Regions from separate parts of the Homo sapiens genome. Here region 2 is linked to region 1. A link means that fine-mapping ties the variant in region 1 to the expression of a gene that starts in the linked region. Tissue or cell type: whole blood. Region 1 holds a variant in brackets; the other region holds the start of a gene. All regions are shown on one strand. Distances are from middle to middle.

The links. PIP is the estimated chance that this variant, and not a neighbour inherited with it, causes the effect.
Region 2: it holds the start of LZTS3, and the variant in region 1 is fine-mapped to the expression of LZTS3 in whole blood (TOPMed, PIP above 0.99).

Annotation. Positions count from the first base shown.
Region 1 is chr20:3,189,727-3,197,884 of GRCh38, forward strand. DDRGK1 (DDRGK domain containing 1) reads right to left here. Exons shown (of 9, transcript NM_023935.3): 5 at 5,505-5,627; 6 at 5,104-5,142; 7 at 2,039-2,095; 8 at 1,464-1,512; 9 at 624-1,093. The coding sequence ends at 927. Among named protein-coding and RNA genes, the nearest start is that of DDRGK1, 11 kb to the right of the region's middle. The variant G/C (reference allele first, on the strand shown) is at 4,522.
Region 2 is chr20:3,170,127-3,178,271 of GRCh38, forward strand. It overlaps LZTS3 (leucine zipper tumor suppressor family member 3), which reads right to left and starts at 3,423. Exons shown (of 5, transcript NM_001365618.1): 1 at 3,329-3,423. It overlaps LOC107985414 (a long non-coding RNA gene), which reads left to right and starts at 3,564. Exons shown (of 2, transcript XR_001754477.2): 1 at 3,564-4,064; 2 at 7,976-8,145. RefSeq lists a silencer at 3,307-3,646.

The DNA of each region.
Region 1 (8,158 bases):
ACCAGAGGAAGTAGGGGGCTTCTGTTTAGGGACCACTTTGCATAAATACACATTTAAACATGTGCCTCACCCTCAGCACAGCAGGATGCTCACGCCATGAACAGCCAACAGGAACCAGAGTGACCGACCCTCCAGGAGGTACACACCTCCCTCCCATCCCACCCACTTCTGAGCATATGGTTCTCACATCCACCAGTGGGTGGAATCACCCACACCATTTAAACTTTTTGTCAAGGATGTAGAGCTGAATTCATGTGATTTCCCACATGAGCAATGTCCCTCCCTCCACTGCACAATTATAGCCAGCTCAAGCAGGTCCTCTCCTTCCTTCTACCTGCCCTGCAAATGGCTCTCTCCTTCACTGACCCCCCGCCCTCCTTCTTAAAGGCTGATGCTCCCTAGGACTCTATCCTTGATGCTTCTCATTAATTCTTCTCCCCGCTGGCTCTCAGCCCTACTTAGGGCTCCTGATCAGTTAAAAAAGACCCATGAGACCTCCCCTCCCCAGTTAACAGAGATGTGGCCCAAGAGGCTCCCCACTTCTAATTTGAGTGGGGGCAAAAGAAGAGAAAGATCTTATCTAGGTCTTGGGGGCAGGGCTTGCAGGGCACAAAGAAACAGAGTAAATGTGCAACAGGCTATTTTCTTGAATGAATGGATTCATAATAAGAACAGGACTTCACCAGCTTCCAAGGGACCCTCCCCACCTCTCGGATATATTCTGAAGCCTAAATTTCACCTGCTTATCTAGGATCCTAGGCCAGGCCTTCTGCCACACCAAGCCACACCAAGCTCAGCAGTACTCACAGGCCTTTAATCTATAACTGCCTGGCCACACCATCACTTCCCCAGGATGGTGGGGAGGGATGAAGATGTATAGCCAGGTAGGCCACACCAACTCTGAGTCCAAGAGGGAAGGACTGGGGTCAGGCTGGGGCTTGGGCAGGGGACTCCCGGCCCCAGGCGATGAGGGAGTTGCTGGCTTGGGCAAGCTCGGCGATGGACACCCGGCCCCGCTGTCGGATGAAGTTGGCCACGGCGGCCAGTTCCTCTGGGGTTATGTAGATGAACTTGCCCCGGTCGTCAATCACACCTGTGGGGACATGCAGGTTGTGGGGCTGAGGCCTCCTGGGCGTTCCCCATCTGGCCTGAGAATGCCCACCTACTCCTTCACAGCTGGCTCAGGGCCCTTCCGGCCTCCTGCCTGCCTGGACTTTCCTGGCTGCATCCAGTCCTGCTAGGAGAGTCGAATCAGGCTGCCCTGCCTGTCCTCTCCCACTGCTGCCACCTCCAGGCCCTGGCATGTCCTCCTTGTAACTGCATCCAGCTACTCAGTGCCCCTCCTTGCACACCCCTCCCCCCATCTTGGGTGGTCATCCTGCCTCTGCAGCACATCCCTGCAGCCCCTGTGGCTAGACACTCTCCAAGGCCAGGACTGCAGTGATTGGCTCTCATCATCTCACCTGTTATAGTCCCCTCAGCCAGCAGGTCCTGGATGCGATTTATGGTGTCCTATGAGGAGAACAACTCTCAGAATAGAGATAGGCACCAATGTCCCCAGAAAAAGCACTGAAACCTCCCTCCCACTACAGCCAAATCTCTTTATTTCCCTCTCATGCCACGCCCAAATGTGACTCTGTGCTTTGCCTTTGGAAGGGCCCTGGGTAGAAGGGGCTCTGGTCCTGGGCCCTGCAAGACCCCCAAAAGAGTATCTCTTCCTGTTAGAAGCGGGGCAGTGATGTTTGCAACACAGGCTGGTGCAGTCTGTGCATGAGAGTTGTCAAGGTAACTGATTTGGGCTGCTTTGGTCACAGGGGCTGGCAGAGTGATGGGGTTTGGGTTTTTTTTTTCTTTCCTGCCTGTTCGTCCATTAAAAATGCAGGATTCCCAGGGTGCCAGGAGACTTCTGTGCACTACTCACTCTTGGTTGGGGACAAGGTAGACGGTGCATCAAGACTCTATCTTTAGGGCAGGTCCTCTCTGCTAGCCACAGACCCCTGGCCACACTGCACACAGCAGGCCACGTTCCAGGGCTTACCTGAGTGCGTAGGCCCACCTGGGAAGCCAGGTCTTCCAAGAGCACAACCTTGGACTGCTACAAAAAGAAGGAGGAAAAGAAAGAGAGGCTGAGCTTGGGCAAATCCCTCTAAGCATGGGCACCCTCCAGGTTTGCATTCTGATCTGATCTGTTCTCGGTGGCTGGAAAAACACTGTACACACTCCTGTAGGACAGCCTTGCTCCCCTGACACACACACACACACACACACACACACTCACTATCACCCATTGACAGAGACCCGCACAATCATAAACCCTCTCATTCCCCTTCTTGCGAGGAAGGAATCTACCCAAAACAACCACCTGCCTCATGGGCCCTGTCCTGGACTCCGAGACACACGAGTGGTAATCAGAGCACAGCAGCCACCATCCTCTGCATCCAGCCATCTCTTTTTAACATCATGGACAAGTTCAAGGGGACGCACCATAGGGAGGAAGGAGGCGGTGAGAGTCACCAAAAGCTATTTTAAATAACTGTCACCAGGACTTATGCTTGCTGAGGACCTACTAGAACAAGGCCCTGAGAAGGTAGGAGGGACACATGCTGAACAAGCCATAGTCCCCGCCCTGGAGCTCGCAGTCCGGCTGGTGAGACAGGTGAGTACATGGACAAGAGGGAGAGCAGATAAAAGCCCGAGCAAGCCAAGGTCTCTCAGTAGAGGCTGTGGGGGCCCACTCCTGCCTTGCCTTCGCTGGCCGCCCCACTGGCCTGGTCCCCCACAACCTGACACACCCACACTTTTTATCCATCCTCTTTATACCATCTGAGGCACTGAGCCCACCCTTGAAATCACTGTCACTAATACCGCTGAGTGCTTTCCAGCACAGCCACGTTCTGTGCTCCAAGTGCTTCTTCATACCCTCAGTAGAAACCTGAGTTCCCAAGGGCGCAGCGAAGGGTCCACCGCTGTGTCCACACAGGCACCTGCCCCCACTACCCCAACACACAGCACAGGACTTGAGAAAAGGCAGTTCTTTTGCATTTCTGTGAATCCTCCACCGCAAATGAGCTGGGGGAGGACTGACATGGTGACACCTCCCTGACTGCAGATAGCATGTGACTTGTTTGAAATGCCAAAGCCGTATGTACAAGCAAGAAGGCAAGCGAGAGGCAGCTGGGTCAGGATGGGCAAGGACAAAGTGACGTGGTCAGCTGGTCTCTACCTACAAAACAGGGATCAGGCAGCGGGCTCTCAGTGACAGTGTGGTGCGAGAACATGAAGTCACCCCAGGTGCTCCCTGATGACCTGGCCTGAGGTGCTGCTGGGGCCAAAACACGTTTGATAAAACAAGCTAGGTGTGGTGGCACCCACCTGCAATCTCAGCTACTCAGGAGGCAGAGGCAGGAAGATCGCCTGAGCCCAGCCATGGTCAGACAGGAGAATGGAACAAGATCGAGTGAACCCTACACCTCTCATAAACGATGCTGGGTGCAGGCATGTTCCTCCAGTTCTGAAATCTTAAGGCAAAAAAGGTCTATCCCCTTGGAGCAAGGAGGAAAGCAGACAGACTGAATTTCAGAAGTCCTCCTTTTCCTTGCAAGACAGCAGCTCTAGAAGAATTAGCCAGCACAGGCTGGAAAAACTTTTTTTCTTTTTTTTTTGAGACAGAGTCTCACTCTGTCGCCCAGGCTGGAGTGCAGTGGCACCATCTTGCCTCACTGCAACCTCCACCTCCTGGGTTCAAGTGATTCTCCTGCCTCAGCCTCCTGAGTAGCTGGGACTACAGGTGTGCACCACCATGCCTGGCTAATTTTTGTATTTTTAGCAGAGATGGGGTTTCAGCATGTTGCCCAGGCTAGTCTCAAACTCCTGACCTCAAGTGATCTGCCCGCCTCGGCCTCTCAAAGTGCTGGGATTGCAGGCGTGAGCCACCATGCCCGGACAAGCTGGAAAAACTTCTAAGCTCCAAAAGAGTTTGGAGAACTCCCAGAGAATAGTTACCTCCAGGGAGCCACCAAAAGTGAGGGCTAGAACTGGGGACCTTTCTTCTGGTTTCTGCAGAGTAAAGGGGGATGTTGAAGCTGACCCCCTCCTCTAATTCCACCTGGGAAGGCTTCCTGGGGAGGGGCTTCAGGACCATCTTACTGCCTACTGGGTAGGTGGGGACAAGTTCCAAACAGCAGCAGGCAAGTGTGAGAAATAACCTGCCCGGCCACAGCCCCTAATCAAGTGTGCCAGGGTAGAGAGAGGGCTCCATGAGAGGGGAGTGCACACAGCCTGAACAGACAGGACCCTCTCAAAGCTGCCAGCATTTCCCCCACTTAAGAACCCCAGACTCAAGGCTGTGAGCCCAGCCCCTCGCTGCTGGCAGGCGTCTAAACCCTGCTCTCTTTCAGGAGAGGTGGCGGGAGGATTATGCAAGCCCTGGGTCCTTGGCAGCCCCTGGTAGCACCCCCACCACCGCCCCCGCTCCCTCTGCACTCCTTCCCTCAGCCGCCTCTGCACCTCTGAGTTGCACTT[G/C]AAAACCTCTCCCCTCATGGCATCCTTCGTGGGAGAGAAGTTGCTTAGCAGCAAAGCAAAGTAGGATGTGCTTATGCAACCTGGAGCAGCATCGAGGCGGCCTGCGCAGTGGCTGCGGACAGAAGGGGACACACTGCCGCCCCACCCTAAACTCCAAAGGAAACACCATCCTGTTCCCCCTGAAAGACCCAAGTTCCCAGTCAGGAGCACATGGCAGAGGATGCTTGTTTCAACTCAGTGGAGCCTCAGTGTGACAGAACTGACAGAAAACACATGTGAAGAGACTTGAAAACACACTGACTCACTGAGCGTGGGGTCTGAAGAGCAGGGAAACTGTCAAACTGAGTGTGAGGAAGTGATCAAAGGCTTGCGCCTCCCACACAGACCCAGGTCCTTCTCCACCTTCGGGGTTGGAGGGAGAGAAACTCTCCTGGCCAGGACCCTGCGGCTCTGCCCCTCTGGGCCCCCCTGTCCACTCCTGCATGAGCCTGAATGCCCTGCCTGCAGCCCCCGCTGGAGGCATCCAACCTGCACATGCCAGGCAGGGAGCTGACACTCAGGCTCTGTTCAGTGGCTTCTTACCTTGATGTAGTTGATGAACTCTGTCAGGAAGCTCTGGGACTAGAGAAGCAGAGAAATCAGGGTGAGCACCCCCTAGCAAGCCCACAGGGTTCTGTACCCATTCACCCAAGTACCACCTGCTCACTTGAGGGCCACCTGCCTGCAGCCTGCCTTTGGCCCGCCCAACCACCTGCACATACCGCTTGCCTACACAAGCAGCAGAGCCTTCCAGGGTGAGAGTTTCGGAGGCACCAGCCTCTGCTGAGGACAAGGCCTCTGGCCACTAAAGCCTGCTGGTACTGATGCCCACCCACCTCTCACTGCCTGGCCAGGGGCGTCTGGGATGGGGTGGCTAGCCTTGCGTCTGGCACAGGCTGCACTGATGGGTGCAGAGAGGGGCTTCCCAGGGGCAGCAGGCCCACCTGTTCCTCAGTCATGGTCTCTCCTACGCCTTCCTCCTCCACCACAAAGGCCTCCTTCAGTTTCAGGTACTCCTCATGCTCCCGCTGGGCCTGCTCCTCGCGGGCCTTCCTCTCCTCCTCCTCCTGTGGACATAGGAGGCAAAAGTCAGGTATCGGGGGCAGAACAGGGCAGGCACCTGTTCTGGTTGCTGCTACCCCTGCAGGACACCAGAGCATATAGCCCAGCCTTTTCTCAGAGACAGAGCTCCTTCAGGACCCCCATTTCTCCATTCCCCCAAGCTGAACCATGGGCCGAGGCCCCTCTTGTCATCGGTTTCATCATCACCTGGACAAATGCTGCTCAGCCCCTTCTCCCGCCCTCCGTGCTCAGGGGATCTTAGCAAAAATCTGTTGAAAACCCTGCCATGACCCCACTCTACAATACCCTCCAATCACCTGCCCCATCCTCTCCTTGTGTAACTCACCAAGCATACCCCGTCATGTCCACACCTCATAAGCAAATGTGAACCCTGCATTTCCTCACCACCCACTCACCCAGTCAGCCCACTCCAGTCTGGCTTCTGTGTTCCCAGTTCTATGAAACAACTCCTGCCACAGTCTCACCCATGCCCTCCACTCACCAAACTCAAGGTACAACCTTCAGGTCTCATATGTCTGTCCTCTCAGTGATCCTTCTTTCCTCCCTTGGCTTCCAGATCCCACCCTCTCCTGGATTTCCTCCTGCTCCTTGGGCCATTCTTCCCGCCTCCTTCATCATTCAGCCCTGCCTCTTCTCTCTCCTCCACATTCTCTGGGCCACCTCGCCCATGCCCAAAGCATCAACCCCTTCCTTGCCAGTGACTACCACACTTGTAGCCCCACCCGAATCTCTTCTCCCAAACACACAACGGTCCATGTGACACAGCTACTGGGCCATCTCACAGGCAGCAGACAGACCCTGGGACCTACTCTTCTACGTTTAGACCTCCTCCTAGGTCCCTGGCTCTGTGAATTAACACAGCCAACTGGTCAGAAATGAGGTCCTATTGACCCCTTCTTTCTCTAACTTCCAGAAAACTCCCTGGTCTGTCTATGTTGCTCCATCACCACTACTGCCTGGTAAAACAGCCTCCCTCAACCCAACACATTTTCCAGAGCACTCAGAAAAATTTTTAAATGGAAAGCTAGCCGGGCGTGGTGGCTCACGCCTGTAATCCCAGCACTTTGGGAGGCCAAGGCGGGCGGATCACGAGGTCAGGAGATCGAGACCATCCTGGCTAACACGGTGAAACCCTGTCTCCACTAAAAATACAAAAAAAAAATTAGCCGGGCGTGGTGGTGGGCGCCTGTAGTCCCAGCTACTCGGGAGGCTGAGGCAGGAGAATGGCGTGAACCTGGGAGGCAGAGCTTGCAGTGAGCCGAGACTGTGCCACTGCACTCCAGCCTGGGGGACAGAGCGAGACTCCATCTCAAAAACAAAAACAAGAATCAGAAAGCTAAAGCTGAGGCAAGTAATATACAAGATGAGTCTGGGGCATCTTGCAGTGCCAGAAACTAAGTGCTCAAAAAACAAAACGAGTGTGTGTTAAAGGTACACAGGAGCCAACTGAAAGGGCTCCCAATGGTCAAAGCTGGAACAATCTCAACAACGTAATAAATAACGTTACTGGATTATAACACAAAGTACAAAATAAATACTCATGAGTCTATACAAATATAAAAAAAATGGCTGGTCGGGCACGGTGGCTCACGCTGGTAATCCCACCACTTTGGGAGGCTGAGGCAGGCGGATCACCTGAGGTCAGGAGTTCAAGACCATCCTGGCCAACATGGTGAAACCTCGTCTCTACTAAAAATACAAAAATTAGCTGGGTGTGGTGGCGGGTGCCTGTAATCCCAGCTACTCGAGAGGCTGAGGCAGCAGAATCGCTTGAACCTGGGAAGCGGAGGTTGCAGTGAGCCCAGATTGCGCCACTGGACTCCAGCCTGGATGACAGAGTGAGACTCCATCTCAGAAAAAAAAAAAAAAAAAAAAAAGACTGCATGAATATTTAATGAATAGGGAAGGAGAGACATATCTCCTGTAAGAGATTTCCATATAATTTATGTAAGAACTCTAACTCCCCAACCCTTAAGTGTGGGCTGTGCACAGTGACTTCTTTCCAAAGAAATACGGGAAGAGGGGAAAAAAACAGTCACATTACAGTGGAGAAAGCTGGCAAACAAAACCGCAGCCAGGCGACCAAGGTTAACAACATTAGGGACAAGTGAAGCGGATAACTTGCATATTTGGTATGTTGCATTGAAGATGGAACTTCACTTATTGTCTTCTTCAGTCAGATCCATAACCCCAGTCTAACCATGAGAAAAACATCAACCAAACTCAAATTAAGGGACCTTCTACAAACTACTTGCCCAGGACTCCTCAAAATTGTTAAGGCTGGACACAGTGGCTCACACATGTAATCCCAGCACTTTGGGAGGCTGAGGTGGGTGGATCACCTGAAGTCAAGAGTTCAAGACCAGCCTGGCCAATACGGTGAAACCCCGCCTCTACCAAAAATACAAAAATTAGCCAGGTGTGGTGGTGCACGTCTGTCATCCTAGCTGCTTGGGAGGCTGAAGCAGGAGAATCATTTGAAATCTGAAGGTGGAGGTTGCAGTGAGCTATCGCG
Region 2 (8,145 bases), 20 kb before region 1:
AGAGTGTGCTGCGGATTTAGGAGCTGGTCTCGAGACATCACCAATGTCTATGTCAGAATGGTTTCAGAAAAGTGGTACAAGTGCCGGATGCGGTGGCTCACACCTGTAATGCCAGCACTTTGGGAGGCCAAGGCAGGCAAATCACTTGAGGTCAGGAGTTCGAGACCAGCCTGGCCAACGTGGTGAAACCCCGTCTCTACTAAAAATACAAAAAATTAGCTGGGCGTGGTGGTGCGCGCCTGTAATCCCCTACTCAGGAGGCTGAGGTGGGAGAATCACTGGAACCCGGGAGGCAGAAGTTGCAGTAAGCCGAGATCATGCCACTGCACTCCAGCCTGGAAGACAGAGCGAGACTACATCAAAAAAAAAAAAAAAAAAAACAGGTTGGCGCGGTGGCTTACGCTTGTAATCCTAGCACTTAGGGAGGTCCAAGACAGGTGGATCCCCTAAGATCAGGAGTTCGAGACCAGCCTGACCAACAGGGCGAAACCCTGCCTCTACTAAAAATACAAAAAAATTAGCTGGGTGTGGTGGTGCATGCCTGTAATCCCAGCTACTCAGGAGGCTGAGGCGGGAGAATGGCTTGAACCCAGGAGGTGGAGGTTGCAGTGAGCCAAGATCGCACCACTGCACTCCAGCATAGGTGACAGAGCAAGACTCCCTCTCAAACAAATAAACAAAACAGAACAAAAAAAGTGGTACAAAACAAAGGCAGTCCACAAGGCTAGAGGAGTGCAGAGAAAGACATGGCAGAGTTCCTGCTAAAAGAGAAGACAGTTATTTAAGGAGGTTTGAGATTCAAGGGCTTTTTTAATTTTAAAATTAACCATGGTAGAAACCTGTGTGTTAATATGCTGAGGGAAGTTGCCAATAGTGAGATGAAAGATCTAGGCAAGGGGATAGCAAGGTGACTGCACCAGATACCTGGATCTGGGCAGGAATAAACCTCAACAGTGATCATGTTGACCTTGAGTGACAGGGTATAATGTTTGGGAAGGTGCTTTGTAAACTATAAGGGGCAATACAAACATGTAGTACACCTTCTCTGAGATCCGGGAAAGGACAACCTGAGCATAGGTTGGGGCTGGTCATAGGCCACTCTCCCCTACTGTTTCTCTAGAGTGTGTGTAGTCCCTAGCAAGTCTCAGATGCCTCGAGTCGTGGATGGAAACAAGGTCCCAGGACCATTGTCCTGAGCCTCCTTTCTCCGTGCTCTACCTGGGGAATGCTTGACTATCAACCCACAGAAGCTCTCTCTGGAGCCTCACTGCCTAAAGAGCTTCTTGTCGTAATTGTAACCTGTCATGGTTAACCCCTTGCAAGCATGCCCTGCCCCTTGTCTCTCCCAAGCTTTGGCTGCTGCAGCTTCTTTCCACAAAATCCCAGCAGATAGCCGGGCGTCGTGGTGCGTGTCTGTAATCCCAGCTACTCGGGAGGCTGAGGCATGAGAATCGCTTGAACCCAGGAGGTGGAGGTTGCAGTGATATTGCGCCACTGCACTCCAGCAGCCTGGGCAACGGAGTGAGATACCCCCTCAAAAAAAAAAAAAAAAAAATCCCAGCAGGACACCGGCAGGACAAGGAAGGGGATGTTTCCCTGGTAAGCAGGAACTGAACTGAGAGGAAAGGTCACGGTCCTGAACTAGTCCAGGTAACTGAGCATGGTCTGCAAAGGCAGCCTCCTGGCATCAGTGCACCACCCTGAGATGACAGCCTGTTGCCTGACTGCCTCGATCTCTGTCACCTCAGCCCTCAGTGCCTGGGGCATTATACACAGTATTAGCGTCATGAGGGGGCCAAACGGACTCTACCTGACAGTTACATGTACAGGTACCTCCAACCCACCCCTCAACCTGTGTCTCTCCCAAAGCTAGGAACACTTGGGGTCTCAGAGGCCCCAACCCCAGCCCATTCTATCTCCTAAAAATCTCTAGCCAGCCCCTCCATCCAGCACCCCTGCTGGGGGCTCCTCAATGGACTTTCTTCTCCTGCACTCCCTCCCCCAGGCAGCTGCCAGGGGATTCCTTCTAAAGGGCAAAGCTGATCTTGCCCCTGCTCTGTCCAAATCCTTCCATGAGCAAGACCAAGTGCAGTAGACAGAGTTCTGGCAGCATCAGCTCCAAGTGTAAATCCCAGCTTGACTGATTAGGGGTGCAACCTCATGCAGGTTATTTCACCTCGGGTTCTCACACCTACATTGCAGGCATTTTAAGAAGTAAATGTATGATGGGTGAAATGCCTGGTATTCCTCTTGGTCCCCAGAACCAGAGCAGAGCTTGCAGCAGGGTCCCCAAGGACTCTCCTGATGCCCCTCCTCTATCTACCCTGACCTGAGCCCCTCTCTACTTCACACACAAGCTCTTGCCAGCTCTCTGTGCCCATCCTACATGCTTCTAGACCAGTTCAAAGGCTGGCCTCAGGACAGCATCCCTGATCTCCACCCCCCAGAGGGGGCATCTTGGAGCACTTGGCTGAGGACACCCCAGGGAGATTTCACTCTGAGGCCTCCCCAGGGCTGGCCTATAGGTTTCCCAGGAGCACAGAGGGCAGAGTCCTGGGGGTCTCTGGGCCCTGCACCAAGGAAATGCAGGGCAAATGCCTGTGGGAATGCTAGTTATGGGCAATGCAAAGAGGCAGTGAATCCGGGCAGGGAGAGCAGGAGGGGTTTCCAGGAAGCAGGACTGAGGGAGGAAAGGGATCTGGGGGCACTGCAGGGCTTTTGGGGTGCAGAGATATCCAGAACTTCTTGGTTGGGATGAGTGAGGGGAGATCCGTCTTCCCTCGGTGGCCTAAGCACTGGCAGCGGAATGGGCCCATCACCTAGCTACTGGCTCTGATGAAGCCAGTGTTTCAGGACTGAGGGGGCCGAGAGCGCCCCCTCCACCCCGAGCACACACACGCGCGCACACACGAGCTTCTGCTGGGGGTGGGAGGGGGGGTCGCCATTCACCAGCAGCCCACGGCCCGCAGAGCCAACTGATAGAGACCCCAGCCACAGGCCACAGGACCTGGGAGTCCCTGCGATGGGGGAAACCCCGCCCGCACCTCCCCAGGCTCCCCACCAACGCGTGTGGCCCCGGGGGGCGGGGCGCAGAGGGAAGAGGTGACATAATCCGAGCCGCACCCCCTCTGGCCGCCACCTCCCCCCAGGCCGGGCGAAGCATCCATGACATCATCCGCCTCCTCTCCGCTCCCCTCCCCCTTGGGACCCTAGCAGCGGGACGCGCCCCCTACCCAGTCCGGGTCAGGTCAGACATGCCGCGCAGTGCAGCAGGCACGGCGGCAGGTCGGAGCCGGGAGGGATGCCACGATGGGCCTGCCTCACTTACTCGCTGCCTCAGGGTCCGGCGCGGGGTCTCCGACACGGGCGCCACCGGCCCCGCTTGCTGGCGCAGCCCGAAGCACGCCCGGCGGGGCGCGCTGCGCGGGCCCGGCTCCGCTCCGCGCCCCTCCTGCTCCCCGCCCGAGCCCCGCCCACCAGCGGCTGCGGCAAACGCGAGCCCGCCCTCCGGCCACGCCCCCCAGGGCAGCCAATGCCCGGGCTGGGGCGGGGTGAGGCGCCTTAACCCCTTCGTCGCTGCGCCCCGCCCGCGCGTGGGACCCCTCAGCCTCACCCTCTCTAGGGCGCAGCAAGTCCGCCGCGAGCCCCTCTGCTCATCGCTCGTTACCCCCCAGGCCCTTGGGCTTGGGCTCAGGCCCAGTCGTTCCTCTGCAACAAATCCAATGGAACCGCGCCCTCCCTGAATCCCACGTCTAGGAAGAGGAGGAGGAGCCCCTCTTGCTTGGGGGAAGGGGCTCCCGACTCGGAGCCCCGAGCCCCATTCCTCTCCCGCGCCAGCTCTTCGGGACGCGGCCTCCCAGCGGACGCCCTGAGACCTTGCAAGTCCGCTAGGGAGGGGTCGGGACGAGCCGTCGCGGGTGGATCCGCCCGGCCGAGCAACGACCCGCCCGGGCGCGAGGACCACGGGCTGTCGTGCGGGAGGCGTCGAGGGGCAGTAAACTCCGTTCGTGACCAAACGGAGACGATTTGAAACTTGCTGCTCACACTGGATCACCGTCTGGAAGGTGCGACGGGGAAAAAATACACATTACACTCCAGCAGGATTGAACGCTTTCACCCTGTGCCCCGCGCCTGGCGTAACGCGTGGCCCCAGACCACACGCTGTAACCCGGGGTGAGAGGGAGTGAGGTGGGACTTCGTACCGGACCCGGAGCGCCGGCCTCGCCCGCGCGGGCAGCGTTCACTGTGGGGAGTGCTCACTCAGCCTAGGGCGGCCCGGGAGGACTGCCGGGAGGAGGGAGTCGGCCTTGAATTGAGGCCTCAGCCTTGAATAGGGTAGGGAGGCAAGCCTAGCCGAGAGTTTAGCACTAGCAAAAGCCTGGAGGCACCAGGGTCTGCCCTAAGAACTGCAGCGCCTCTGCTCTGGCTGGGATTTAACGCATTACGTCTCTGCTGTTTATAGGTGTTGTGTTTGGTCTTACGACTTCGTATTCTATAGTTTTTATTTATTCCTGTTTTCTGAATTTTCCCACATTTGCTTTTATCTTCTATCGTGATTTTCAAGGCAGAAAGTATTTTTAATTCTTCTCGCGGCTGCCTTTAGATTTATCAAATGAAAATAGTTTACATTTCACACATTAGTAAAGTCAGTGACAAATAATTCGTTTTTATATTCCCCCATGAGAAATTTTGTGTGCTTTTCTGCCTCCTACCTGCCGCCCTCACTACTTATATTTGTCCACTTAATCAGGACGACAGACCTAACTTTTGTTTACACTTTTTTTTTAAGCCACAACATTCTTTTTCAATCCTTGTTTTTGGCTTTTGCCAACTCTGTTTAATTGGTTTCAATGTTACTGCCGGTTTTTTGTGCTCTAATTTTTCTATTCCTCATTTGGACCCATCTCTCACATGACTGGTGATTTCAGGGAGGACTCTGGAATGTTGTATTTCCTAAGCCTTTGCCTTAGGTGAGAATGCCTTTATAATGATTTCCTGTTTATAGGATTCTTGAGTCTCAAGCTTTCCCCCTCAAAACTCTTGTCTTTATTTCATTGTCTTCTGGCACTGAAAATGCAAAGCTGGGTTTGTCTGTTTAAGGTCAGCAGTTTGCTTGGTGCTTGCAAGGGTTTTTCTTTACCCTCAAAAGTCAAACATTTTGCCAGTATAAATCAATATGGGCCTTATCTATTAATTTTCCAGAAACAAAAGAGGTCTTCTTTGTAGCTTAGAAAAGTTTTCTTCCTGTCCATTCTGTGAAAAGATTTGGGTTTTTTTCTTTCCTCTCCTCTAAAACTATCACATTGGATCACCAATGTCAAATAAATCTGTTTGTTTTCTCTGCACCCTGGGAGACTATATCAAGTTTTTCTTCACCATTACGGATTTAATTTTCTTCAGAGCCAAGAGTACTGTTTATTTTCTCCAATAAGACATTTGATTCTGCTTGTTTTATTTTTCTTTCAGCCAATTTCCATTCCACCTCTGTCTTGATCTCAACTTAATCTCTCTTTGTAGTCTCCATTCCTATTTCATAGACTAATGTGGTTTTGCATCTTTAAAAGAACACCAGGAAAATAAGAGAATACTATCTATATCTGACTCTGGTCCAATGCATATGAAAACTTTTTTGTTTTTTTGAGACAGAGTCTCACTTAAAATTTACACAAACTCTAGCATAGTGTGTAACTATTGAATGAATAACTAATGCAATCCCCTTCCTTTCTTTCAGAGCAACTATGAACTAGACTTTTTTTTTTTTTTTTTTTTTTTTTTTTTCTGAAATGGAGTCTCCCTCTGGAATGCAATGGTGCAATCTCAGCCCACTGCAACGTTCGCCTCCTGGGTTCAAGCAATTCTCCTGCCTCAGCCTCCTGAGTAGCTGGGATTACAGGCATGTGCCACCACCACGCCGGGCTAATTTTTGTATTTTTAGTAGAGACGGGGTTTCATTATGTTGGTCAGGCTGGTCTCGAACTCCTGACCTTGAGATCCGCCCGCCTCGGCCTCCCAAAGTGCTGAGATTAGACTATTTGTATCTAGGTTCATCAGTTCAGTGAACTAATCAATACTTTGTTTTGTTTTGTTTTGTTGTTGCTTAAGATGATTTGTCACCTGCTGATTAATGATCACACAAGTTGTTTTTTTTTGAGAGAGTCTTGCTCTGTCACCCAGGCTGGAGTGCAGTGGCATGATCTTGGCTCCCTGCAACCTCCGCCTCCCGGGTTTAAGTGCTTCTTTTGCCTCAGTCTCAGTAGCTGGCATTACAGGCGTGCACCATTACACCCAGCTAATTTTTTGTATTTTTAGTAGAGACAGTGTTTCGCCATGTTGGCCAGGCTGGTCTCGAATTCCTGGCCTCAAGTGATCCACCCTCCTCCACCTTCCAAAGTGCTGGGATTACAGAACTGAGCCACCGTGCCCGGCCCTGAAAACCTTGATAAAGGGGCTCATTTTCTGGGAAATAAAATTACAAGGATAACAAAGATATTAAAAACATCATCCAAGAAATATGTCCAAAAAAGGTTCTGGTGGCCGGCATCGTTGCTCACGCCTATAATCTCAACACTTTAGGAGGCCGAGGCAGGAGGATGGCTTGAGCCCAGGAGTTCAAGACCAGCCTGGACAACATAGGGAGACCCTGTCTCTACAAAAAAATTTAAAAATTGGGCTGGGCATGGTGGCTTACACCTGTAATCCCAGCACTTTGGGAGACCAAGGCAGGTGGATCACCTGAAGTCAGGAGTTTGAGACCAGCCTGGCCAACATTAGTGAAACCCCATCTTTACCAAAAAATACAAAAATTAGCCAGTTGTGGTGGTGAATGCCTGTAGTCCCAGCTACTCGGGAAGCTGAGGCAAGAGAATCACTTGAACCCAGGAGGTGGAAGTTGCAGTGAGCTGAGATTGCGCTGTTGCACTCCAGCCTGGGCGACAGAGTGAGACCCTGTCTCAAAAAAAAAAAAAAAAAAAAATTAAAAAATTAGCTAGGCACAGTGGTGCACACCTGTGATCTCAGCTACTCAGGAGGCTGAGGTTGGATGATGGCTTGGGCCTGGGAGGTTCAGGCTGCAAGTGGGCCGTGATCGTGCTACTGCACTCTAGTCTGGGCAGCAGAGCAAGACCTTGTCTCAAAAATAAATAAATGAAATTTTAAAAAGGCTCTGGCCTCAGACAGTTTAATGGAAGAAATCTCTCAAACTCACTGAATAGATAATTTTCACCCTACTAATCTGCATCAGAACCCAGAAAAGATAGAATGCTGTCTATTTCATTTTATGAAGCCACAATTCCCCTTATACCAATTCCTAATAATAGCACAGGAAGAAAGGAAAACTGAAAACCATACTCATCAGTCATCAGTTCCAGGGGTGGAAAATCCTACATACAATTCAAGAAAATAAAACTGTAGATTATTCTGTATGAAATTAATAAGCCATGAGTTTGTCAACTGAGAAAAAAAAACAATTATCATAATAGATGCCAAAAAAATCAGTCAAAAATGAATACCCAAAAAGAACCCTCCTAATTAACCAGGAACAGTTGAAATTAAGAATTATGTATTACCGGCCAGGCACGGTGGCTCATGCCTTAATCCCAGCACTTTGGGAGGCTGAGGTGGGTAGATCACCTGAAGTCAGGAGTTTGAGACCAGCCTGGCCAATATGGTGAAGCCTCATCTCTACTAAAAATACAAAAATTAGCTGGGTGGGGTGGCAAGTGCCTGTAATCCCAGCGACTCAGGAGGCTGAAGCGGGAGGATCACCTGAACTTGGGAGGTCGTGACTGCAGTGAACAGTCATCATGCCACTGCACAATGCAGCCTGGGCTACAGAGTGAGTTGCCATCTCAAAAAAAAAAAAAAAAAAAAAAAAGCCACGTGAGATGTGAGTTCCTGTTTCCCTACAGCCTCACCAGCATAGGATATCATTAGTCTTTTAAATATTTGTTTTAATCACGTCTTCTTTGCCCCATAGCTGACGGAGGGGTTCCCACTCTCATGTGATGGCAGTGGCCAAACACAACACCTGACACTGGGCAGGTGAGATTTACCGCAGTTTATTAGTTACAACATACTCAATGGGAAAGGACACCACAAGCCACGCAGGGCCACACAGGGGGTGTACTCAGGAGTGGAGAGAACAAC